Regions from separate parts of the Homo sapiens genome. Here regions 2, 3, 4 and 5 are each reported to be linked to region 1. The links are microRNA targets in miRTarBase. Many come from high-throughput screens and were not tested one by one. Region 1 holds a microRNA gene; each other region holds the end of a gene's coding sequence.

Evidence for each region. The annotated mature microRNA hsa-miR-6810-3p reads UCCCCUGCUCCCUUGUUCCCCAG and lies in region 1 at 1,520-1,542, opposite strand. An mRNA with a match to its seed (bases 2 to 7 or 8) in the 3' UTR can be bound and repressed. Matches are read on the target gene's strand: a 7mer-m8 pairs with bases 2 to 8, a 7mer-A1 pairs with bases 2 to 7 and ends in A, and an 8mer does both.
Region 2: miRTarBase lists NKX6-3 as a target of hsa-miR-6810-3p. Seed matches in the 3' UTR shown: 8mer at 4,107-4,114.
Region 3: the mRNA of UBD is a reported target of hsa-miR-6810-3p. Seed matches in the 3' UTR shown: 7mer-m8 at 4,743-4,749.
Region 4: miRTarBase lists OPRL1 as a target of hsa-miR-6810-3p. Seed matches in the 3' UTR shown: 7mer-A1 at 2,049-2,055.
Region 5: the mRNA of ZNF268 is a reported target of hsa-miR-6810-3p. The part of its 3' UTR that is shown has no 7-base or 8-base seed match.

The regions. Positions count from the first base shown.
Region 1 is chr2:218,338,399-218,343,499 of GRCh38, reverse strand. It overlaps MIR6810 (microRNA 6810), which reads right to left and starts at 1,589; the gene lies at 1,520-1,589. PNKD (PNKD metallo-beta-lactamase domain containing) reads right to left here. Exons shown (of 10, transcript NM_015488.5): 3 at 3,602-3,717; 4 at 3,359-3,471; 5 at 2,714-2,772; 6 at 1,874-1,966; 7 at 1,356-1,519. The region is part of intron 2 of CATIP-AS2 (CATIP antisense RNA 2); the gene reads left to right.
Region 2 is chr8:41,642,188-41,647,288 of GRCh38, forward strand. It overlaps NKX6-3 (NK6 homeobox 3), which reads right to left. Exons shown (of 3, transcript NM_001364841.2): 3 at 2,990-4,507. The coding sequence ends at 4,262. Among named protein-coding and RNA genes, the nearest start is that of NKX6-3, 6.1 kb to the right of the region's middle. RefSeq lists an enhancer at 2,999-3,058 and a silencer at 4,373-4,602.
Region 3 is chr6:29,551,109-29,556,209 of GRCh38, forward strand. It overlaps UBD (ubiquitin like modifier D), which reads right to left. Exons shown (of 2, transcript NM_006398.4): 2 at 4,407-5,101. The coding sequence ends at 4,772. It overlaps OR2I1 (olfactory receptor family 2 subfamily I member 1 (gene/pseudogene)), which reads left to right. Exons shown (of 2, transcript NM_001396058.1): 2 at 2,117-5,101. The coding sequence ends at 3,058. Among named protein-coding and RNA genes, the nearest start is that of OR2I1, 3.3 kb to the left of the region's middle.
Region 4 is chr20:64,098,083-64,103,183 of GRCh38, forward strand. It overlaps OPRL1 (opioid related nociceptin receptor 1), which reads left to right. Exons shown (of 5, transcript NM_182647.4): 4 at 1-75; 5 at 194-2,551. The coding sequence ends at 717. Among named protein-coding and RNA genes, the nearest start is that of NPBWR2, 6.9 kb to the right of the region's middle. RefSeq lists an enhancer at 3,348-3,849.
Region 5 is chr12:133,203,713-133,208,813 of GRCh38, reverse strand. ZNF268 (zinc finger protein 268) reads right to left here. Exons shown (of 6, transcript NM_003415.3): 6 at 1-5,101. The coding sequence ends at 4,284. Among named protein-coding and RNA genes, the nearest start is that of ZNF268, 25 kb to the right of the region's middle.

The DNA.
Region 1 (5,101 bases):
CTGGGTGGGGGTTGGAGGGTATGTCACAAGGTGCCAGGATAACACAATATGGCATAAGGCACACCCAGACAGGTGGGAACCAGCTTGTAATGCTCTGGCTGGCCGTCAGCCCTGACTGTGCACTTTCCAGACCCACCCCAGGCATCTATTCCCTCCTCACTGGGAACTGGGCCCAACTGGTCACCCCCTGACCAAGCCCATCCGAGGCCTCCGTTGCACACAGTGACACCTGAAGGGAGGGGCTGTGGAATCTTCGGGCTGCAGGCCCCAGGCTTGGTAGACGCAGGGCTGCTCTTTCCCACGGAACACTTCTTCGCCTAGGCTGCCCTTTGGGATTTCATGCAGCCTGGGACTTGTGATCCTCACCCACCCACTCACCTAGCTGTTCTTAACTTTTCATAACCTAGTCCTGCCAGTCACTGTATCAGAGAACCAGTCTCCACCCAGGGGAAACTAATTCCCTGCAGGGCTTTACTCAGCTACAGACATTCTCCCATTCTGTCCCGCAGCTGGCAGAAGTCTTTTTTATTTTTGAGACAGAGTCTCATTGTTGCCCAGGCTGCAGTGCAGTGGCACAATCATAGCTCACTGCAACCTTGAATTCCTGGGCTCACCACCACACTGGCTAATTTTTGTATTTTTTGTAGAGACGGGGTTTCACCATGTTGCCCAAGCTGGTCTTGAACTCCTGGGCTCAAGCAATCCACTTGCTTTGGCCTCCCAGAGTTCTGGGATTACAGGCCTGAGTCACTGCTCCTGGCCTATATTATTTATATTATTTAAATTTTTTTTTCTGTTTTGTGACAGAGTCTCACTCTGTCTTCCAGGTTGGAGTGCAGTGGCGCGATCTCAGCTCGCTGCAACCTCTACCTCTCGGGTTCAAGCAGTTCTCCTGTCTCAGCCTCCCTAGTAGCTGGGATTACAGGCATGCACCACCATGCCCGGCTAATTTCTGTATTTTTAGTAGAGACGGGGTTTCACCATGTTGACCAGGCTGGTCTTGAACTCCTGACCTCAGGTGATCCTCCCACCTCAGCCTCCCAAAGTGCTGGGATTACAGGCATGAGCCACCACGCCTGGCCTATTTTAAAATTTTTTTGTAGAGACAGTCTTGCTATTTTGCCCAGTCTGGTCTCCAACTCCTAGCCTCAAGTGATCCTCCTGCCTCAGCCTCCCAAGGTGCCCCAAGGGAAGTCTCAAGGATTAAAACCAATCTGAGTAACACAGATGGAAGTAACTGCCACGGCAACATCTGTGCTAAAACTAAGGCTTCAGTGCTCTCCATGGGACTGTGGCTGCCCTGGCTTCTGTCTCTCCCTCCTCTCCCAGCTCCTCTCTCTTTCGGGGAAACTCACCACAGCCAGAGAGGAAGAGCAGGTCCCCTGAGAAGAGGCAGGAGGGACCCTTGTAGGGCTCCCCATCCAGTAGGTAGACCAGATGGCCTTGTGTGTGGCCAGGTGTAGCCAGGGCCCGGATCTGAAGCCGTCCCACGCTGACCACATCTTGATGACACAGGGGACTGGGGAACAAGGGAGCAGGGGACAGAAGGTATTGGATCTGTGCCATGCTGATCCCTGTCCCCATCCCAGGCCCAAGGGGCTGGGTGATTCACAAGAGAGTGGGCTTCCATACAAAAGAAGTCACCCCAGTGCCTCGGGTCTCAGGTCCGAACCCTCCCCCTTTCCTCTTTTGGGGACTATGGCTGGATCAGTTGGGGGATGGGCAGTGCCAGTCTTCAGATAGGCTGGGATTGGGCCAGGAAGGGCACTGGCAAAGATCCACCTGCTGATACCCCTGAAACACTTCACTGAAGGCTGGGGGTGGGGGAAAGGGCCCATGGAAGGGCCATCCCTTGCCTAGGTCAGGGACTTACTGGGTGAGGTAGGGGATGCCGTCCTGAGGGCTCCCGTACACCCGACAGTCCCGGTGCCGCCGGCTGAGGTCACGGTTCCCTCCACTGTGGTCCCTGCAGGACAGCAGAGACAGGCAGGGGGCTTCGAGGGGCAACTGTACCTAAGCCCCCTTCTTTACCACAGCATCTCCAGGCCTTTAAGTGCTGGGGCTGTGGCTTCTGGACTAAGCCAAGTTGTCCACACCTCTAGGCCTTTGTTCAAGCTGTTCCCTTGCCCAGAACATCGCCCCCAACAACTCAAGCTGGCCAATGCCAGCCGAGCTTCCTGAACCCTCAGCTCAGGTCATCATCTTTCAATTCTCCAAGTGGATCTGATCACACCGTGCCTGGGCCTCCCATCCCTGTTCCCTGTGCCAACTGTTACCTAAATATCACATACTTCTTTTTTGAAGACAAGGTCTCACTATGTTGCCCAGGTTGGGCTTGAACTCCCAACCCTCTTGCCTCCGCTGTTATATACTTTGATACAGGGCTACCTCCCCTATTGGTCTTAGAATTTCCTTGATGGAAGAGTCATAACTTTTGTCCATGCCCAGTGTGCAGTAGGTATCTAATACATGCCCATGAAATGAAAGAGAAATGACTGCCCTGCCCTCTGGGGCTTCAGAAGCTTGATCAATGGAGTGGTGGGAGACTGTCCCCTCTCCTCCCTCCCTGCTGGTGTCCAGGTGACTTCACGAGGAAGGCGGGTGCCGGCCCGTACTGACTTCTTGATCTCTGGCCCCGGCCGTCCTCAATGGGCCCAGTCCTGGCAAGCCCAGCTGGGACAAGGGTGGGCCAGGGAAGACGGGAGCCCCTTACCAGTGCTTGTGAGTACACAGAATGGCGACCAAGGTGACCCCTTCCTTTTCAATGGAAGCCTGCGAGAGAGAGGAGGTTTGGAGACTGGGGAGCAGGATGCAAGAGGCACTTGAAGCAGCAAGAGCCAGGAGTGTGGGCGCTGGTGGAGAGGAGAGGAGAGCATGGAGAGATGAAGCAGAGGAAAGGGATGGAGCTGGAGGGGAGAGATCCAGGAATGTGAAGCACGGGGCACATGGAGGCAGAGGGACACTTGTACATAGAGAGAGGCAGACACAGAGAGATAAGGAATGGGAGGGAAAGACAGAGAGACCCAGATACTGACAGACAGAGGTGACAGAAAGAAAGGGGGTCTGAAGGGGGCCAATGGGAGTGAAAGCCAGCCTGGAAACTCACTAGACCCAGAGTCCTGGGCCAACACCCCCAGCCCTCTGGCTCTGCATCCCCCACTCCTGCTCTCCCCTTCTGCCCAGCCATGCCCTGTACCCCCCTTCCCCAGGCTATGTGTGCGCATGTGCACGTGTGAACATGGAGCATATGGGACACATCCCACGGGCAGACGGACAAGGGTCAGCCCTCTCTAGCAAGGCGAAACTGCCAGTCCCCAAGGTGACTCCAGGCACCCCCTGCTCCCTGCCCTCCCCTCACCTGCACAGCCCGAGGGTCTGAAGGGTCCACAGCCACAGCCAGCTGGGCCTGGGTGTCGATGATGAGGTAGCTGTAGTTGTCCGAGAGGACAGGGATGGGAAGCACCTTCACTCCTGGGGACAGAGATGGGCTGTGGGCGGGGTAACAGGCAGGGAGCCCAGGGGCTGGGGTATGTGAAGGGGAGCAGGCGGGGAGGGTGGGGGCACAGAATGGGGGATGCTGGCCGGGGCAGTCAGAGCTCACCATTGAAGAGGCGGGGCTGGGTTTTCGAGTGGCCTTTAGGGTAGCGATTCCGAGCCCTGCGCAGCTGCTGTCGGTAGAAGAGGTACCCGAGCCAGGTGCGGGTGTACAGGCTGTACCTAGAGGGCGAGTGGGTGGCCTATGATTAGCCTTTTCTCCCTAGCTCCCCTAGACTCCTTCGTGATGCCTGCAGGCCCCACATCTCCATTCCTTTGGTGACCCTGTGAGCCAATGCAATTCCACTCTCACTTATTATGTGCCTACTGTTTGCCCTGCTTAGCACTCAGGACAAGATGGAGAATGAGACGGACACACCTAGAACTCAAAATCTATCAGGGAGACATGAACTGAGGAACTCACAGAAGAAAATTGGAGAGGCCAGGCGCAGTGGCTCACACCTGTAATCCCAGAACTTTGGGAGGCCGAGGTGGGCGGATCACCTGAGGTCAGGAGTTCGAGACCAGCCTGACTAACATGGCGAAACCCTGTCTCTACTAAAAATACAAAACTTAGTCGGGTGTGGTGGCACACGCTTGTAGTCCCAGCTACTCAGGAGGCTGAGGCAGGAGAATTGGGCATCGCACCACTGCACTGCAGCCCAGGCCAAAGAGTGAGACTCTGTCTAAAAAAAAAGAGAGACTTGGAGAGTGAGGGGTTTAATCTAGCCCAGGGTCTAGCACCTCTGATGAAGTGACATTTGCAGGGAAGAAGGAGTAGGAATTAGGAGGCTGAAATGAGGTAGAAAAAATATTTCAGAAAGAACAGTGGTGGTCAGACTTTAGCATGCATCCTAATCATCTGAAGAAGGTTGGGTACAGTGGCTCACACCTGTAATCCCAGCACCTTGGGAGGGAAGGAGAGAGGATCACTTGAGCCCAGGAGTTCGAGACCAGCCTGGGCAACATTGTGCCCTATAGGGTCTCTACACACACAAAAAAAAGAATAGCTGGGCGTGGTGGCACACGCCTGTGGTCCCAGCTACTCAGGTAGCTGAGGCAGGAGGATTGCTTGAGCCCGGGAGGGTGAAGCTGCAGTAAGCCATGATTGCACCACTGTACTCCAGCCTGGGTGACAAAACAAGACCCTGTCTCAAAAAAAAAAAAAAAAAAATCATCTGAGGCTGGGTGTGGTGTCTCACGCCTGTAATCCCAGCACTTTGGGAGGCCGAGGCAGGTGGATCATCTGAGGTCAGGAGTTCAAGACCAGCCTGACTAACATGGTGAAACCCCGTCTCTACTAAAAATACAAAAATTAGCCGGGTGTGGTGATGGGCACCTGTAATCCCAATTATCTTTTTTGTAGAGATGGGGTCTCAGTTTGTTGTCTAGGCTGGTCTCGAACTCCTGGGCTCAACAAATCCTCCTGCCTTGGCCTCCCAAAGTGTTAGGATTACAGGTGTGAGCCACCGTGTCCCACCTGAAATTCTTTTTTTTTTTTTTTTGAGACAGAGTCTCGCTCTGTTGCCCAGACTGGAGTGCAGTGGTGCAATCTCGGCTCACTGCA
Region 2 (5,101 bases), not on the chromosome of region 1:
CAGGCACATGCATTAGTTCTAATCTCACAGAAACCCTGCAAGGTGTGTGGAATTATTCCTATTTTATAGATGAGTAAACCGAGGCTCAGAGGTTAAGTAACTGGCCCAATGATACAGAGAGTGGTGGAGCTATGGTTTGAGCCCATATCTAACTGACTCCTTTCCCCTAACCCATGCTGCGGGGACAGCTGGTTTCTGGGGTCAAAACCTAGGGGTGGCCCGAGGATGAGGAGGGGTTACCAGAAGTGGGACTTCAGCCCTTTGTCACCTTTCTTTTGCCCAGGCTGGAGTGCAGTGGAGTCATCTCGGCTCACTGCAACCTCCGCCTCCTGGGTTCAAGTGATTCTTCTACCTCAGCCTCCCCAGTAGCTGGGATTACAGGCACCTGCCATCACGCCCAGCTAATTTTTGTATTTTTAGTAGAGACGAGGTTTCACCATGTTGCCCAGGCTAGGCTCCAACTCCTGATCTCAGCTGATCCGCCCACTTTGGCCCCCCAAAGTGCTGGGATTATAGGCATGAGCCACTACACCCGGCCTCTTTGTCTACTTTCTGATTGTTACCATCAGGATATGGCCACTGTGAGCCTGGTAAGGCATGGACATCCACCCACCCTCGCCCCGACCTGCTGAAGACATATCCCAGGTCCTGCTAATAGCAGAAGCCACAAAGGTGACAGCTATGGCAGAATCCGTCCCTACTTGGTGGAGCCCATGGAGCCACCTGTCAGAGCAGACACCACAGCTGTCATGGACGTGGGACTTAATTTCTTTCCTTTTGTCTCTGAAAAGTTTGTGATGTGGTAAGAGAGGAGCTGCAGGGAGCATGCATTTCCAAAGTTCTTTTGCTTTTTGTATGTTTGTTCATTTAACCCAGAATATACAATAAGTTCTATTTATGAGCAGGGATAAAAGTGGGGCCTATAGTTTATGATTTTTTTTTCTTTTTCTTTCTTTCTTTCTTTCTTTCTTTCTTTCTTTTTTTTTTTTTTTTTTTTTTGAGACAGTCTCACTCTGTCACCCAGGCTGGAGTGCAGTGGCATGATCTCAGCTCACTGCAACCTCCACCTCCCGGGTTCAAGCAATTCTCCCACCTCAACCTCCTGAGTATCTGGGACTACAAGCCCTCACCACCACGCCCAGCTAATTTTTGTACTTTTAGTAGAGACAGGGTTTCACCATTTCTCACCATGTTGGCCAGGCTGGTCTCGAACTCCTGGCCTCAAGTGATCCACCCACTTCGGCCTCCCAAAGTGCTGGGATTACAGGTGTGAGCCACCACGCCTGGCTGGCTTATGATTTCTTTATGATGGATGAAGTGAGATAGCCTTGTGTTCTCCCAAGTAACACACACATGTATGCACACACAGGCATGCACATGCATTCACATGTGTGTGCATCTGCAGAGGGCCAGACTTATCTTGAATGACCCTTGGGAATCTGGGTCTTCCACATATGAGTTTTCTCCTCCTTTGAACTCCAAATCTAGTCTTTTGAATATGCTTCAGCATGATTGTTAGGGAAATGGGGGGCAGTGCCTCTCCTGTGCTTGGCCCTATGTTCAGTCTGCACATGGAAGGTGGTGTGGGATTAGAGGAAATGGCCCAGAAGGCTGTAGTCTTTTAGCTAAAGGTTCCAGTGGCAGGTATCCCAGAACTTTGAGGTCAAAGGAGGTTTTGTTTAGCTCAGCAAATATCTCCTGGGAAAAACTTTCCCCAGGCTTGATTTCATACTGACCTCAAATGACTTGAATCAGACATGCAGGAATTATAGCTACAACAGAGCAGTTAAGATTACAGCATGCTTCAGAAAAAGATAAGTAAACACAGTTTTTATGTCACTTGCATCTTCCTCCATACCTGCTTGGTGACTTTGCACCTGGGCTATGTGATAGCCTTTTCCTGCCTGCAGCACTCAGGAATCACAAGCCTCCCAGAACCACAGAAACTTTTTATCTTTGAAGTCTGTGCTGAATTCTAGGGTCCTCTCCTGCTGCAGCCACTGTAGGACCCATTCAGGACACTTGTGACAGAGCACGGCTTCTCAGTGTGCACACAGAGATTGTGCTCCATTCCCTTCTTTTCTCCTTTCTGCTTTTCAAGGGAAAAGACTGACACCTGAGCATAGGCATCTTCACAGATGGAGGGTGGAAATTTATACACATTCTGCATTTTCTGGTCATGTTCCTCTCTGTCCTCTGGGTCCTCTAAGGGTCTTAGGAAAGGTGGGTGCCCTACTTTCTGAGATGCTCCTAGCTAGGGTCTTCCTCCACCCTCATCCCCTCTCGGGCTGGTTCCAGGGCCAGGTTCACCCATCCTGGGGGTCTGGGGGTCCAAGGATGGACTTCTTGGGAGAGCAAAGGGGTCAAGCCTAGTTGCTAGTTGCACAGATTGTTGAAGTTGGAAGGGCCTTAAACTACTTTTGGTTCTAGCCTCTCATTTGACAGAAAAGGCTTCGAAGGGTGCCCTTCACAACCCAAGGAAGTGGCTGAAAGGGCCTTGGGATCTACTCTGAGGTTGCCTCGTCCCACTTCTGTGACTTGGTTTAGGAACTTTCTGAGCTTTGGTTTTCTCCTCCATGCATTGAAGATGATACCTACTGCCTAGTTTTCTTGTGGGGTCAGTGATAATCCAGACATTCTACAGGGGAGAAATTAGCAGGTGTTCTGTTAAACTTAGCTCTTCTAGTCTCTCCCTTCTTATTTTTCTTATGATACCCAATTCTCCACATAGATCATCTTCCCCACTAGGCTATAAATTCCTGGAGATCAGGGACCCCATAAAATTCACCTTGGGTTTCTCAGCACCTGGGGACAGTGTCTGGCATCTACCAGTGAGGTTTCAAATAACTTGTATTGTGCAACCTGTCAGAGCACGAATGTCCCCAGGAGACTAGACAACGGCCCTCGGGGAAGGCCCCACAGCTGGCAAGTCTGGGACCTCACAGCCAGTTTCCTGCCGTTGGTCCCTTTCACAGAAGCACAGGAGCCGTAAGGTTCATGGGACTTTTATTTTTACTGTTTATTTTTTGAAAGCCAGTGAGGATGGGCAAGTGCTTGGTCCCTTCTGGGCTGCATTCCTATCTAAGACCAGCCCTCACCCGCCTCCCCCAGCCCACCCCCTACCTGCCAGCAGCTCAGATCACCCGGGTGAAAAATACCACCCTGTTGGCCAGCGTCCCTGTCAGCACCAGCTCCAGTGCCAGGCCGCAAGGCGATCTGAGGAAAGGAAGGGCCGTGATTCCCAGCAGGCCGTGGTTCAGCCCCTTCCTGGCATCCTCCACCCAGCCGGAGGGGCTGTCCTTCTCCCTTCCTGCCTTGTTGGAGGGGTGCCGTTCTGGGGTCTTTCCCAGCCCTTCCTTTCCTCCCCAGGTGGGATGCTTTTTCTCTCTGGGTGGGCCTGTCCTTATATCAGCACCAAATGATGCCCAGGTGGGTGGCCCTTGGGCACACCGTCCCCGCCTCCCCTCTCCCTGCACCCTCCCCTTTTCCCCGGCTGTCAGGATGAGGAGGGCACAGCGGTCTCAGAGGTATTGACCCTGAGGGTAAATCGGAGAAAGGAGGCCAGGGGGATTTCCGCAGCTCAGGGGCCGTCATCCTGCAGTGTCAGGGGCATTTTTTCTCCACTGGGATGTCCCACTTCCCCTCCTGGAGGCAGATTTCCTGCAGCCTGGGTTAGGTGCTCAGCTCTGGCCCCTCCAGTGGGACCCTTCCTGTGCACAGGTCTGAGGAGTGCACCTGGCCACTCACCTGTCTTTTCTTCTGCAGCCAGCAGCTGGCTTGGGGCCCAAGACTCTGGACTTCTGACTCCCCAGCCAGCTGCCTCCCTCCCTGGGAAGTCCTGCCCACTCCCCCCGCCCCAACAGCTGGATCACAGTGGCATGTCTGGGACCCCACAGCCAGTTTCTTGGCTGCAGAGCCTGGTCATTTTAGTCCTCTGTCCACTTGTGAATCTGCAGAACTGGCAGGCGAGGCCCGAGGAGGTGCAAGGGGCAGCGGCTTCCAGGTCTCAGGAGTGCTGTGCCTCCCTCCTGGCCTCCTCCTCCCTTAGCTAGGATGCCTGTCCCCTTTCCCTCCTTTTCCTCCTCCTCCCCCGCCTCCCCTCCTCCTCCCCTGCACCTGCTGCTCCTCCTCCACGCGCCCCTCATCCAAAGAAAGACTCAGTCCCTGCGCCCCCAGGAGCGTGGGGAAGGGGAGGGGAAGGTAGGCTCCTCGGCGTCCCCCCGCAGGCTGCAGCCAGGATCCCGGGCCTGGACGGCGGGCGTCAGACGCTGTGCGCTCCCAGGCTGAGCACCGAGAAGGCGGCGCGGTGCTTGCGCAGCAGCAGGCGGATCTTCTCGTCGTCCGAGTCGGGGTCCAGCGGCTTGTTGTACTCGTCGTCCTCGTTCTCCGAGGGTGCGCGGTCCCCGCCTGCGCCTGCACCCGCGCCGCCCGGGGCCCGGGGCGTGGAGGACGAGGGCTCCAGGGCGCTCTTCTTCCGCCACTTGGTCCTGCGGTTCTGGAACCACACCTGCGATGAGAAAGAATGTGAAGGGCACAGGGGCACAGCGCGCACGGGACGCGAGAACAGCCATCCTGCTTTTACAGCTAAACAAATGGCTCAACAACGGAGTGACTGTCACATTCACGTTTCTGTTGGGGAAGGACAATAAAATTTAAAAACGTGAGCGCGGCAGCCCTCCCCTCCGCCCCCCGCCCCCACCATTTGCTTCCTCTTCCACCGCCGCCTCCTCCCCCTCTCCCTCCCCCTCCCCCTCCCCTCCCCCTCCCCCTCCCCCTCCTCCTCCTTCTCCTCCTCCTCCTCCTCCTCCACCTGGGAACTCGGTGGAAGATGCGGAGTGCGCGGGTGGAAGGCTTAGCCCCGGTGCTCATTGGAAGGTGCTTATGAGCAGTCCCTACTCTGGGCTTCATAGACCCTCACCCTACTTCATAAATAATTGTTCCCCTAGTTAGTTAGAAAAGTAACGTAGGTCCATTGCTTGGGATAGTTGAAGAGGGCAGGAACGCACCCCAGAAGCAGAAAGACATGCAGGAGTGTCTGCTTCTTCCCCCCAGCTCTCGCCCCAGGGCAGCTGAGCGGCTGATGAGGAGGGCGCAGCGGGTT
Region 3 (5,101 bases), not on the chromosome of region 1:
TGGCATATTTGAAGAGGAATGGTTTAGAGCTTGCCAGGCTGAACAGTTATGTGTCCGTGTAATCACCGCATTAAAGAATTTGACCTTTTGTAACTCAACATCTCTAGCCACCATTGGTCTGTAAGCCTGAATGTCACCTCTCCTACTTTATTCATCTCTGATATGACCCCAAATTATAAAATGATCTATAAATATAGGTAAGACTTTGCATGTCCTTTCATACTCCACAGTCTCTAGCACAGTGGATCCTGGTTGATCAAACAGGAAGGACCTCGAAGTTAGTCAAATATAAGTGGAAAACCTATTAAGCATTTACAAATAATGTGGCCTTGGGCAAGTAATTTAACTTCAGTTACTCTCCTAACATACTCTATAAAATAAGGCTATTGCCTAATATTCAAGTGAGTTAAGATTAGAGTTAATAAATGAAAAGAGCTGTAAATGTTCATAGCAGTTGTATCACTGCCTAGCATAAGAACCCCTTAAAAACCTGTTTCTTAATTTGGGAAACAGATATGACGATAGTTAGCATTTATTAAAGGATGACAGTTAACAACTGCTATGTGCCAGGCCTTGTTCTAACAGCTTTTCATATTTAGCCCACTTAACATATTTCTATTTTCATATGAGGAAACTGAGGCAGAGAGAGGCTAAGTAACATACCCAAGGTTTTCCAGCTAGAAAATGGCAGAGCCAGGACTCAAACCCAGGCAGTCTGGCTGCTGAGCCCTGGTTCTTAATTATGACATTAATGCTTATTCTGCCCAGTGAGGATAAAATGAGTGAAACATAAAATCAAACAGGATGTTTTGGTAGGGAGCAGTGTTTTTTCCCTCTGAAAAATGAAAAATTAGGTTATTGTGATTTTGTAATTTACAGCAGTGAATATGATGTGAAAAATAAGTTATCCATATAATAATTTATGTCAGGAGTCATGCAGCAGAAAGATTTCTGTCCATCACGTAAACTTTCATCCATTACATAACCCATATGTTTCTGTACCATTAAGACACTTGGTTCAACAAGACCCTTGGAGAATGAGGTTCCTTTTGTTCCCTGGGGTTCTCTTTTTATTTTATTTTTGGATTAATATTTGATAGTAAAGCCAAGGATTTGGGACAGGAAACTTAGATGACATCTAGTTCAAACTCCTTGATTTACATATGAAAAAATTGAGACAGAGGGAAATGAAGATTTCCCCATATCATATAACTGGCTAAAGGGAGCTATGTAGGTAAAACCAAGATGTCCTGATATTCTAGTCTACCAGAAAGTGTTCTTTTTTTCTACCCAACTTATTCCTGATTTAAAGGCTAGTATACGTGTGCTGATCTCCCCTCAGTGGGAGGGGCATGGACGTTGGGAGTAGTCTCTATTCACAACAAATTAAAAATCAGTAATCAGCCGTATAATGGGTTGTGTTAGAAAGTAAACTAAGGCCCAATAAAATATTTAAGAGTTTATTTGAGCAGTGATCCAGAAGTGGCTAGGGAGCTCCCCAGAGAGAACATGAGGAGGAGGCTTTTTAGGACAAATAGATAAAAGCAAAGATAATATTTCATTGGTTACAGTTATACAGTTACACAGTTATACAGTTGCCTTATTTGGTCTATCCCATGAGGAAGTCCTAGTTACTAATTACGTTTTTGTTGGCTGCTTCTGATTGGTTGAGCTTAAGTTCTGTGTTTCTTTAACATAGGCATTTACAAGAAATACCACAAATAAAGTTTCAGACATGCTTGCAAATCAAGCAAGGTTAAGGTCACTTAGGAGGCCCAACTGGCTCTGTCTGCTCAAGGATTCTTCTGGCCTCGTCTCCATTTTACATGAACTGTTGCATAAATAAACACAGAGTACCTGAAACAACGGAGGTGATCATTCTGCCTACCGAGTGTTGGCCAGGCCAAGCTTGGAGTGTTGCTCTTATTCTTAGGGAGTTTATTTTTAAGTAATCTCATCTGTAAATGGGATTACAATCCACAAACTGACCTTGTATATGATTCCATTCCTTCTCCCAGCCCAGCCCCACACTCCAAGGTTTTCCCTTTGCTTATAAGGGGTAGTCACCCTTTTTTATTTCGACCTTCCAAACATTCTGGGAGTTTTCCTCCTTTAGGCCAACTACAGCGCAGAGGAGCGCTTTCTCCTGCTGGGTTTCTCCGACTGGCCTTCCCTGCAGCCGGTCCTCTTCGCCCTTGTCCTCCTGTGCTACCTCCTGACCTTGACGGGCAACTCGGCGCTGGTGCTGCTGGCGGTGCGCGACCCGCGCCTGCACACGCCCATGTACTACTTCCTCTGCCACCTGGCCTTGGTAGACGCGGGCTTCACTACTAGCGTGGTGCCGCCGCTGCTGGCCAACCTGCGCGGACCAGCGCTCTGGCTGCCGCGCAGCCACTGCACGGCCCAGCTGTGCGCATCGCTGGCTCTGGGTTCCGCCGAATGCGTCCTCCTGGCGGTGATGGCTCTGGACCGCGCGGCCGCAGTGTGCCGCCCGCTGCGCTATGCGGGGCTCGTCTCCCCGCGCCTATGTCGCACGCTGGCCAGCGCCTCCTGGCTAAGCGGCCTCACCAACTCGGTTGCGCAAACCGCGCTCCTGGCTGAGCGGCCGCTGTGCGCGCCCCGCCTGCTGGACCACTTCATCTGTGAGCTGCCGGCGTTGCTCAAGCTGGCCTGCGGAGGCGACGGAGACACTACCGAGAACCAGATGTTCGCCGCCCGCGTGGTCATCCTGCTGCTGCCGTTTGCCGTCATCCTGGCCTCCTACGGTGCCGTGGCCCGAGCTGTCTGTTGCATGCGGTTCAGCGGAGGCCGGAGGAGGGCGGTGGGCACGTGTGGGTCCCACCTGACAGCCGTCTGCCTGTTCTACGGCTCGGCCATCTACACCTACCTGCAGCCCGCGCAGCGCTACAACCAGGCACGGGGCAAGTTCGTATCGCTCTTCTACACCGTGGTCACACCTGCTCTCAACCCGCTCATCTACACCCTCAGGAATAAGAAAGTGAAGGGGGCAGCGAGGAGGCTGCTGCGGAGTCTGGGGAGAGGCCAGGCTGGGCAGTGAGTAGTTGGGGAGGGGAGAAAGTATTAAGCCAGAACCCAAGGATGGAAATACCCCTTAGTGAGTCAGTTTAGACTTCAGGCTGTTCATTTTTGTATGATAATCTGCAAGATTTGTCCTAAGGAGTCCAATGGGGGATATGTTTTCCTCCCGTGAGGAAATGTTTAGTTCTTGAGGGAAAATCCCTAAATCCTCTATATACTCAGGTTTAGGGAAGGAAAACCTACCCCTCACAACTCCACGCGCAGGGAAAATGATGGACGTGATGCTCGCCTTTAGCTTCCTCCCTATCTGATGGAAGACCATGGAAGACCTCTTGGTCTCTGCAATCAGAAGTCTCAAGTTGACAAGAAAATCATAGTCCCTACCCTGCAGGAGAGGGTACATCCAGAAAAAGCGACCATGGACTCTATTCTCAGAAATCAGTCCAACTTAGTGCAGACCTGGCCAGATGACCAGTGCCCTCCCCGGGGCATTTCACCCATAAATGTGATGAGGAAAGCCCATAAATGGTGGTGAATTTTGCTGAGTGGGGTTAAGACTGGAAACCCCCCTGCAGGAGTTGGTTCTTGAGCAAGTTTTAAAGAAACAAGGAACTAGGATGAGTGTGGAAGAAGGCGGGCACGTCTCAGCCCGTGAAAAAAACTCACAGGTGATCAGTAGTGAGTCATGAGAGAGAGAGCAAGAGAGAGAGTCAGAGAGAGGAGTAAATGGAGGGAGGAAGATGGAGGAAGGGACTCAAGTTCTCAAGACAGGAACAGGGATCTCCTCATGAAAAAAAGAAGAGAGGAAAATGCTCAATCAGCAGAACCTGAGCAGAATATTGAGGTCAACCCAGAAGCCAGCTCCTCACCCACCCTCACCCAGACTGGCGCCCTCATCCTGGAGAAGACCTGCTAGACCCTAAGGCAGGTAGGAGAGAGGGTGGTCCACAGTCCCCCAGCTTTAGAAAGTTTGTTCGCTCCCAATGTCCATCTACCCCTAGGAATCCCCACTAGTTAAACAGAATTGCTAGATCCCTGTGGAAAATACCTTTCCTTGCCCACCATCATCCCCAGAAATAATAACTATTTTAGTTGGGTGTGAGACATAGAGAATAAAAGGGGGCATGGTGCCAGACTTCATTTCATACAAATAGCTTTAAAGGAGAAGAGGGGGGAAGGAGTTTAATTTAGTTTCTAAAATGTTTAGTAATTTGATTGTGATCATGTCAGAGCAACTAATTCATTTTATAAAATATCATTTCACTATGCTCTATAAGTAGAAATTCAATTTGGTTCAACCATTATTGAGTGATATAAATAAAGCACTGGACTTAACAAAGACAGAAATACAGAAATCAGTAGAACATGGATCCCAACCTAAAACTTACTCTCTTGTCATAAAGGAAAGGAGATAGGAGTTTTTGCATAAATAACAAGGTATCAAGACAGAATTAAATTCCAAGCTGGCTTTGAATGCTCTATTTTGCCTTAAAAATTTATTTACTAGTCTCAGTAATACATTAGTAAAAATCATGTCACTTAATTAATTGTGTTAGAATCAAAGAAACATAGAGTTGGGCAATATACTTCATCCTACCCATCCCACCCAAATCTTACTCTACTCATCTCATTCTCATTAATTTTGGGAAATCATCAGAAGATGTGTTCGTTGAGTAAGAGATTAAAAGAAATAAGCTTTTTGACCCCTGCCAACACCCCATGCCCAGGGTGGTCACCCTCCAATACAATAACATGCCAGGAAGAGTAAGTTGCCCTTTCTGATGCCGTAATCTGCCATCATCTTCCCATCTTCCAGTCTCTTTCCATTGCAAGTCACAATCTGGGTCTCAGGGATTATACCCGTCTTAGTCTCGATCATTGCTTTCACTTGTGCCACTGAGCTGGACCTTCGCACCTGGAGGAGGTGCCTCTTTGCCTCATCACCTGACTCCACAAGAAACAAGGGCAGCTCCTCATCACTGGGCTTCACCACTTTCAGGGTAAGGTGGATGGTCTTCTCTTTGTCAATGCCATAAGATGAGAGGCTTCTCCGTGGCTTTAA
Region 4 (5,101 bases), not on the chromosome of region 1:
TGGCCATCTGGGCCCTGGCCTCTGTTGTCGGTGTTCCCGTTGCCATCATGGGCTCGGCACAGGTCGAGGATGAAGGTCAGTGGGGTGTCCCCTCCTCCCCTCACCAGGCTCCCTGGCTCCCGGGTGGCTCCTCTGGGCCCACGTGCCCTCCACGTCTCCTGGGCCCACTCTGACCCCGTTTCTCTCCCTGCAGAGATCGAGTGCCTGGTGGAGATCCCTACCCCTCAGGATTACTGGGGCCCGGTGTTTGCCATCTGCATCTTCCTCTTCTCCTTCATCGTCCCCGTGCTCGTCATCTCTGTCTGCTACAGCCTCATGATCCGGCGGCTCCGTGGAGTCCGCCTGCTCTCGGGCTCCCGAGAGAAGGACCGGAACCTGCGGCGCATCACTCGGCTGGTGCTGGTGGTAGTGGCTGTGTTCGTGGGCTGCTGGACGCCTGTCCAGGTCTTCGTGCTGGCCCAAGGGCTGGGGGTTCAGCCGAGCAGCGAGACTGCCGTGGCCATTCTGCGCTTCTGCACGGCCCTGGGCTACGTCAACAGCTGCCTCAACCCCATCCTCTACGCCTTCCTGGATGAGAACTTCAAGGCCTGCTTCCGCAAGTTCTGCTGTGCATCTGCCCTGCGCCGGGACGTGCAGGTGTCTGACCGCGTGCGCAGCATTGCCAAGGACGTGGCCCTGGCCTGCAAGACCTCTGAGACGGTACCGCGGCCCGCATGACTAGGCGTGGACCTGCCCATGGTGCCTGTCAGCCCGCAGAGCCCATCTACGCCCAACACAGAGCTCACACAGGTCACTGCTCTCTAGGCGGACACACCCTGGGCCCTGAGCATCCAGAGCCTGGGATGGGCTTTTCCCTGTGGGCCAGGGATGCTCGGTCCCAGAGGAGGACCTAGTGACATCATGGGACAGGTCAAAGCATTAGGGCCACCTCCATGGCCCCAGACAGACTAAAGCTGCCCTCCTGGTGCAGGGCCGAGGGGACACAAGGACCTACCTGGAAGCAGCTGACATGCTGGTGGACGGCCGTGACTGGAGCCCGTGCCCCTCCCTCCCCGTGCTTCATGTGACTCTTGGCCTCTCTGCTGCTGCGTTGGCAGAACCCTGGGTGGGCAGGCACCCGGAGGAGGAGCAGCAGCTGTGTCATCCTGTGCCCCCCATGTGCTGTGTGCTGTTTGCATGGCAGGGCTCCAGCTGCCTTCAGCCCTGTGACGTCTCCTCAGGGCAGCTGGACAGGCTTGGCACTGCCCGGGAAGTGCAGCAGGCAGCTTTTCTTTGGGGTGGGACTTGCCCTGAGCTTGGAGCTGCCACCTGGAGGACTTGCCTGTTCCGACTCCACCTGTGCAGCCGGGGCCACCCCAGGAGAAAGTGTCCAGGTGGGGGCTGGCAGTCCCTGGCTGCAGACCCCGAGCTGGCCCTGGGCCAGCCGCACCTCTGAAGGTTTTCTGTGTGCTGCACGGTGCAGGCCTCATCCCTGACTGCAGCTTGACTCTGGGCCCAACCCCCATTTCCCTTCAGGAGACCAGCGAGAGGCCCTGGCCCATTCCCTCCAGCGGTGCAATGAACTATCATGCTGTGGACCGTCAACCCAGCCCTGCTTCTCAGTGTGGGGCAGGTGTCTCAGGACGAAGGCGCCGCGTGACCACATGGGCAGCTCTGTTCACAAAGTGGAGGCCTCGTTTTCCTGGTCTTGACTGCTCTGTTTGGGTGGGAGAAGATTCTCTGGGGGTCCCCACATCCTCCCAAGGCTCCCCTCACAGCCTCTCCTTTGCTTGAAGCCAGAGGTCAGTGGCCGTGCTGTGTTGCGGGGGAAGCTGTGTGGAAGGAGAAGCTGGTGGCCACAGCAGAGTCCTGCTCTGGGGACGCCTGCTTCATTTACAAGCCTCAAGATGGCTCTGTGTAGGGCCTGAGCTTGCTGCCCAACGGGAGGATGGCTTCACAGCAGAGCCAGCATGAGGGGTGGGGCCTGGCAGGGCTTGCTTGAGCCAAACTGCAAAGGCTGTGGTGGCTGTGAGGACACTGCGGGGGTTGGGGGGGGGGCGTCTGTACCTCAGGGGATGCCCCGCTGTGGTCACCCAGAGAATCACCCTTCCTGGTCTACAGATGGAAGCTGCAGGTTGGTGACTTTGCAAATGCACTTCCTACAGATGAACTATTAAAAGACCTGCAACATTGAAAAAACTCATTTTTTCCACCAAAACCTTGGCCAGGTAACCTACCTTAGGCACCTGCAAAGAACAGGAAGTGATGGCTGTCTCGCAACAGAGCCTGGGCTGCTCCTCCTGCTCTGGGGAGTCTAGGCCGTGGGGACTGTTCTGGGGAGGCTCATGCTGTCTCCATGACGTCTGTGGCAGGAGTCCCTGAGGACGGGAGCTGCCTAGCTACAGTTTTCTTGCCAAGGCGAGGTGTTTTGTGAATCTGTGCTGATGTAATGTGCACCTTCACGTATTTATGCATGTGGCAAGCGTTACTTCCTGTGCACGTAGCCAGCCCTGGGTCTGTCTCTGGGGTAATGAAAAAGGACCCTAATAAACACCTGCTCACTGGCTGGGTATTCTTTGTAACCAGTGTTTCTGGCTCCTGCCACCTGGGGATTTGCTTCTGGAGTGACTTTTCTGGGATTGGCACGTGGGTGGGAGGAGGCTATGGGTTTAGGCTGAATTCTTGTACCTGTCCTGTGCTGCTCAACAGGCTGGGCTCTGCCCTCAGTGAAACGTCCCCCAGGAGGCTGCAACCCTGGGGAGAGTTGAAGCCAGTTAATGGTGTGTTGGCCGGGCTGTTACCTTTTCTTCAGCACACACGGTTTCTCTCTAAACAACCGATGGCTGCACCTCTCCCCTGCCCCCTGGAAAGAGAGGTTTCCTGAGGATACAGTGGGAGGGTGCTGCTCCCACCCAGGTTGCAGGGTTTTCTTACCCCCATTTCATCTCAGAAGAACCCCTGCTCCTGCTCATTTCCCCTTCCTTGAGCAGATCTGAGGGGAGTTTTGGTGAAGGATGAGCAGACGGCCTCCTCTAGGGCTGGGTACACTCTTGCCATGGACATCTGCCTCCTGGTTCCTGTTTGGCCCAGTTCAGCCCAGGCCGACCTGCAAAACAGAGCAGCTTTGGAGGGTGGGCACGGGCACACTCCAGTCCAAGTACTCGTCTCCAGGGCATGGGCAGATGGGCAAGTTCTGTAGGATTTTCTGTAGGTTTGAATGACAGACACTGTCTTATCCTGGACTGCTATAGCAAAGTACCATAGACTCAGTGGCAATAGAGACATCAGATGTTTATTTCTCATGGTTCTGGAGGCTGGAGATCTGAGATCAGGTGCAGGCACGGTCAGGTTCCGGGGAAGACCCGCTCCCAGGCTGCAGAGGGCCATCTTCTCACTATGTCATGACATGGGTTTGACAGCTGGAGAGCGTGCCTTTCCTAAAGGCACTCATCCCATTCAGGAGGGCTCTGCCGTCATGACCTGTCATCTCCCAAAGGCCCCCCTCTCCTGATACCATCAGCTTGGGGGGCTGAGATTTCAAAATGCAAATTTTGGAGGAACACAAATAGTTCATAACAAACACATTGCCATCAAAGCAAAAATATAGCATCAAGGGACAATTTGGGAGGGAGAGGCTGCACCGGGGCAGTTACTGTGCCCTTGGGCCCGGGAGATGGTATGGTCTTGGTAGAGGAGGCTCACACATGGTGCGGACTGTCCTGTCTTCGGGTGGGTGTGGATCCAGGGCTAAGCCCACAGCTAGTGTCTTCCAGAAGGAGCTGGCCAGACAGGGGCCAAGGGCCGTAGGAGGAGTTGGGGGGCGTTGGAAGCTGACTAGCTCCCTTGCCCTCCAGGACTGGGTTCCACCCCGGCCCACTCCACCCCTCCTCTGACCGCACCCTGGGTCTCCTCTCCAGCCCCCGGCTCCCCCAGCCCACCTCTGCTGTCGGGCTTGGTCAAGTCGCCTGGCTTTTCTGAGCCTCGGTTTCCTTCCGTGTGCAAAGGGGACCGCAGAACCCTCTTTGTGGGGTTGTGGGGGAAGGCTGGGGCGCCCGGGAGGGTCCCGGGTCGCGTCCGACCTCAGGAAGGCGGGGCTTCAGCAGCGGCCTCGGACCCTCCCTCCAGGGGGCGCTGTGGGCTCACGCGGGCCCAGCCTTGGGCCCCGGGGCGCTGCGGCGGGAACCGCGGTGACTAGCGGGGTCTTAAAGCGGGTGGCGGGGCCGGGCTCTCCTGGGACCAGGAGCCCAGAGCGTGGAGACGTGGCGGGCTGAGCCGCTCAGTGCGGCCCCTGCCCCGCGCCCACCCCGCCCCGTGTCAGGAGGTCCGCGGAGCGGGAGGACCCGCCTCCCGGGGAGAGCTCGCCCGCCCCTCCCTCCCGGCTGGCCGCGGGGCGGTCTGCAGACCCTTTGGCCGTGCCGGATCTGCCTGGTCCCCGGGGAGAAGACGCTGAGGATCCCATTGCTGGTCTGTGGATGGGGACAGGAGACGCCCGAGGTAAGAAGGGGTCCGGGTTCTTTGGAGGAATCCTGGTTGGCGCCTTCTCTGCAGCAGAGACGCCCGGCTGGGGCCGGAGGGCAAACTGGGGGCAGGGTGGGAGACCTCGGCCCTGAGGGCTGTAGGGGCTCTTGCCTGGGCGCTCCTTAAGCTCCCCCGCCCCCTCCGCCCCCCACCCCGCGGTGCTCACTCTCAGTCCTGCCTTGCGCACATTCCCACGCCCGGGCCTCTCCTGCCCGCCCCTCGTTGTTCACTTGCTCATTACGCCTCACACCTGGCTCTGCCGCGGGCTTGGAGCGGGTGTCTGGGAAACACAGTCTCACTTGTCTCCTCAAGGGGCTCCGGGGCACCGTAACAGCGTGCAGAGCGCAGTCAGGCTGCCGTGCTGCTGCTTTGCGAGGTGTGACTGCAGCGCAGCCAGGAAACAAATCCAGGGACAGCTTGTTCTTCCTGCGGTGTCGGTGTTGGTGGTGGCTTAAAAATTGCCCACAGACTGGGCTCATGCCTGTAATCCCAGCACTTTGGGAGGCTGAGGCAGGAGGATCACTTGAGCCCAGGAGTTTGAGACCAGCCTGGGCAACATAGTGAGACCCCGTCTTTCAAAAAAAAGAAAAATTTGCCTGGCGTG
Region 5 (5,101 bases), not on the chromosome of region 1:
TATTTTGGGTTTCCTAATTACACGATCACATCTCCAATTCATGGCAGTTGTTTCTGCACCCATCCCTAATTCCTCACATTCCTTGTTTTCACACCTTGGCTAGATGTTACTCATTTCATAAAAGTGATGCGCATTCTTGTAATTTTGCTTTGTTTTTTACAGACAGGGTCTCACTTTGTTGCCCAGGATGGAGTGCAGGGGCATGATCATAGCTCACTGTAGCCTTGAACTACTGGACTCAAGCTAACCTCCTGCCTCAGCCTCCTCAGTAGGTGGGACTACCGGCACTTGCCACTACACCTGGCTGATCTTTTTTTTGAGATGGAGGCTTGTTCTGTCGCCCAGCCTGGAGTGCAGTGGTGCAATCTTGGCTCACTGCAACTGCCACCTCCTAGGTTCAAGCAATTCTTCTGCCTCAGCCTCCCGAGTAGATGGGATTACAGGCACGTGCCACCACACCTGGCTGACTTTTGTATTTTTAGTAGAGACGGGGTTTCACCATGTTAGCCACACTGGTCTTGAAATCCTGACCTCAAGTGATCTGCCCACCTCGGCCTCCCAAAGTGCTGGGATTACAGGCATGAGCCACGGCGCCTGACCACACCTGGCTAATCTTTTTAAAAAGTTTTTGTACAGACAGGGTCTCCCTATATTGGTCAGGCTTGTCTCGAACTCCTGGGTTCCAGCAATCCTCCAGCCTCAGCCTTCCCAAGTGCTGGTATTACATGGATGAGCCACTGCACCTGGCTAATTTTACTTTAAAGGAATCTTTCTACTATTTTATCATTAAGTATGACATTTGTGTTTTCAGAACATATATTCCCTACCAAGTTACAGGAGTTAATTTTAATTCCCAACTTAATAGTATTTTAGTGTCATCTATGGGTGTTAAATTCCATCAAGTGATTTATCAGCATATACTGAGATAATCCTTATGAGTTTTATCTGGTAGTTAATTAAAATATTTTCTAATATTAAATCTTCCAAACATACTCTTCTGTTTTTTGAGACAGGGTCTAGTTCTGTCACCCAGGGTGGAGTACAGTGGTACGATCTCAGCTCACTGCAACTTCCGCCTCCTAGATTCAAGTGATTCTCCCGTCCCAGCCTCCCAAGTAGCTGGGATTATAGGTGTCAGTTACCATGCCCTGCTATTTTTTTGTATTTTTAGTAGAGAGGGGTTTCACCATGTTGGCCAGGCTGGTCTCAAACTCCTGACCTCAGGTGATCCACCATCTCAGCCTCCTGAAGTGCTGGGATTATAGGTGTGAGCCACCGTGCCTGGCCCCATATATCTCTTTTTAAGTGGGCATACTGCCATTATAAATAATAGTGATTCTGCTGGTAATGAACAAAGGATGCTGGATCCACTAATAGTCTGTTAAACCTAATATCATGACTTTCTTGTTAGCTATACATTGGTTTGCTATAATTCCATTTAGAATTTTTAAACCTATGTTCACAAATATGGATTTTTAAACCTATGTTCACAAATATGGATTTTTAAACCTATGTTCACAAATATGGTTTGCAAGTCATTTTTTCTCCTAAATTTCTATTTGATGGGGAAGTTGTAAAATATTGGGGTTATTTTTCCTTGGATTTTCCTTATAATAACTATTCCTGAAAAGTCTCTGGAATGTCTTTCTTTTCTGGGGCTGGGGTAGAAGGACTAGATAGATTTACAAACCAGTAACTCAATTTCTGTTTTGTAAAATTTTCATTTCATTAAATAATAAGTCCTAATCAAGTATTATTCTTTCCCACAGTATGTGAGTGCTGTCCTCAATACTGTCAACACTTCTGGCTTCTACCAGGCAAGGCTGCATGTAGATTTGCATCTGAAAAAACAACAAACTAAAATCTAACCCTAGGTAGTAGTAAACTGAATATAAACTTTCTCTTATGAATTTATTCTGTCTTCTTTGGTACATCAATAATAATATACACCTTTACAGTATTTCCCAGATTGGGGGATACACTTTAGCAAGTATCTGCGATTATTTGTTTATGTAAGATGTCCCTTCCCTTCTGTGAATCATCATTCTTCACCCCAAGTATCTTGAGATTGGATTCTGTATAAGCAGAATACAACAGTTAGGCATTCAGGTATCATTAAATTCCTCCGCTTCAAGGATGAAAATTTCTTTGGGTATCTAATAGAGTACAAAGCAGAAGGTGTTTCAGAAATATTTGCAGTATTGAATCCGCATATTCCTCCAAGATAGCCCTAATCTAACTGGCAGGGTCCCACTCTTCCCAGATTAATGCCCACTCACATAACAAACCTGATGAGGTAGTGAAGAAAACTAACTTTGTGAGTAAGCAACTGGCAGAGTTTTTCACCACTGTGACTCTATAGCTACATGTAACTAAGTAGTATCACTGACACATAATCTTAAATTGAAGTTTTAAGATCATTATTCTCCATGTTATACATGGGTATCAAAAGCATTCCCCTCTTGACCACTCCAGAATTCTGTTTAAAATTTTTCAATGACAACTTATCCATTTCCCCAAAGCCTCAGTGAGCACATGATGCCAACAATTCATTTCATGACTTCATAGCATGGGCCAAGTTTCTTGCTTAAAAGACTTCCATCCTGTCTTGGGAAACAACCATTTCCAAATATCCACATATCCTTGCAAGTTTCTGCCTACTCCTCTACCACCCATTTCTGAAGCCATCTGATTTAGTAAGCTGTATGCAAAAGATACACAATGGCTAATGCAATCAAACAAGGAATGTATTAAAAGCACACCCAATAGCTCAAAATAAAAGACAAGTGAACAAAGTTAAGAAAATGACAGTAACAAAAGCTGTTCTGGGAACCTCTATTGAAATAGCTACTTATTACATCAACATGCTACCACAGAACAAAAGCTCATGTTGCTTTTCTGAACTTGAAAAACCCATTAACAATGTACAGTTCTGAGCCTCAGCTGACCATAGTGCTCATGCCAAGTCCTGAGCAGGGCATCTTGAATGGTGGTTCCCTCATGACTACATACACCGTTAGGGAATGTTTCGTTAAGAGGAAATCAAGATGTTCTAACCTGTGAAGGTAGAATAGATTCCAGGCTACACAAACACATGAAGTGTGCCTTATATTGATTACTAAAGAGGTTGCTGCCAAGACTGCTTCCAAAGGGCAGAAGATAGCCCTAAAAAATGTTTGCAGTGTGGAAATGCATTTTTAGTAAGTCATATTCTAGTAACAAGTTGCATTTGGTAAGACACAAAGAAACAATGTTGGTATGCAGAGTAGAAATCTCTGGAAGATGATATTGTCATATCAGAGATATTGTCAGTATCAGAGATACTGAAATCTCTGGAAGATGATTTTTGTCTCACATATGGCATTCGCAAGTAAAATGCCAAACTGCAAAATTCATATTATGTAGTACACATAGGAAGATATCTAAATATCCCTGTAGGCTCTGGGATGTTATTTCTTATTCTTAACCTCCTTACTAGATTCACTTGTACAATGAAATAATCTGTATCTTATTATTTATAATTGAGAATTTTCTCAAACCTTTTCCTGAAATTTTGGAACACCTGGAATAAAATTTCTTAAAATGATTCCTAAAAGAAATAATTCTTCAAAATTAATATTAAGATATAATAACAGGTTGGTTTTTTTTTTTTTTTTTTTTTTTTTTTTTAGAATGAAGCTTCTAAGGTGAGGTTAACAGTCCAGCTGTGGTTTATTTGGTACATTCATAAGATGTTCACTCCTATATATATTTTTTCCCTAGGGGTTTCTCATTTCTAGATTTACACTTTCCCTTATAGCATGGTCCCTCCAAGGTATATGCTTCCGATACATAAAATGTTTGTAATTTTGTTAATTCTGCCATTCATTAGCTCAATAATTTCTCTCATTAAAATTCTGTAAACTATGAATTTCAAAGAAGTCTATTCTATATTCATCTGGTTCATGAAGTTTCCTCTTTGTGAATCTTATTTTAGTAAAATGACTTTACAACGTTTAACATGGTTCCTCACCTGTATGAACTTTTTAAAAAAAGGTATGACTTGCTGCTAAAAATTTTCAGAGTGGTTACTAAATTCAGTTTTCCTGTGTATTGTCTACTATCTTTTTGCATGTAAAGAACAGCTTTCTGTGGATGCCTTTCCATATGCTGTGCATTCATAAAGTTTCTATTCAGTATGAGTTTTCTGGAAGATGACAAGATGATTCCACTTACAGAGTTTCTCTTTATATATGATTGTTTCTATCTCTTGTGAATCCACTTTTCAGAGTTTCGTAAAATTATCAATGTTTGTCATCTACATGAGTTCTCTGATGCATAATGAGCTGTGACTTCCAACAAAAGGCTTTCCCACATTCAGTGCACTTACAAGGCTTCTCTCCTGTATGTGTTCTCTGATGTGCACTGAGAATTGATTTTTGAGAGAAGGTTTTCCCACATTCATTGCACCCATAGGGTTTCTCTCCTGAATGAGTTCTTTGATGTACAATGAGTTGAGAATTCCTAATGAAGGCTTTTCCACACTCACTGCATTCATATGGTTTCTCTCTTGTGTGCATTCTCTGGTGTACAAGAAGGCGTAATTTCCCACTGAAGGATTTCTCACATTGACTGCATTTATAAGGGTTGACCCCTGCATGAGTTCGCTCATGTACAATGAGTAGTGATTTCCAAATGAAGGCTTTCCCACATTCATTACATTCATATGGTTTTTCACCTGAATGAGTTCTCATGTGTATAATTAGGTATGACTTGCTGCTAAAAGCTTTCCCACATTCACTGCACCCATAAGGCTTTTCCCCTGCATGAGTTCGCTGATGTGAAATGAGCTGGTCTTTCCTATTAAAGGCTTTCCCACATTCACTGCATTCATAGGGATTTTCTCCTGTGTGAATTCTCTGATGCACAATGAGTTGTGAATTGAAACTAAAGGATTTCCCGCATTCCCTGCACTCATGTGGTTTCTCTCCTGTATGAGTTCTCATATGTATAATAAGGTATGACTTGCTCCTGAAGGCTTTCCCACACTCACTGCATCCATATGGTTTTACTCCTGTGTGACTTCTCTGATGTACAATGAGCTGGGACTTCAAACTAAAGG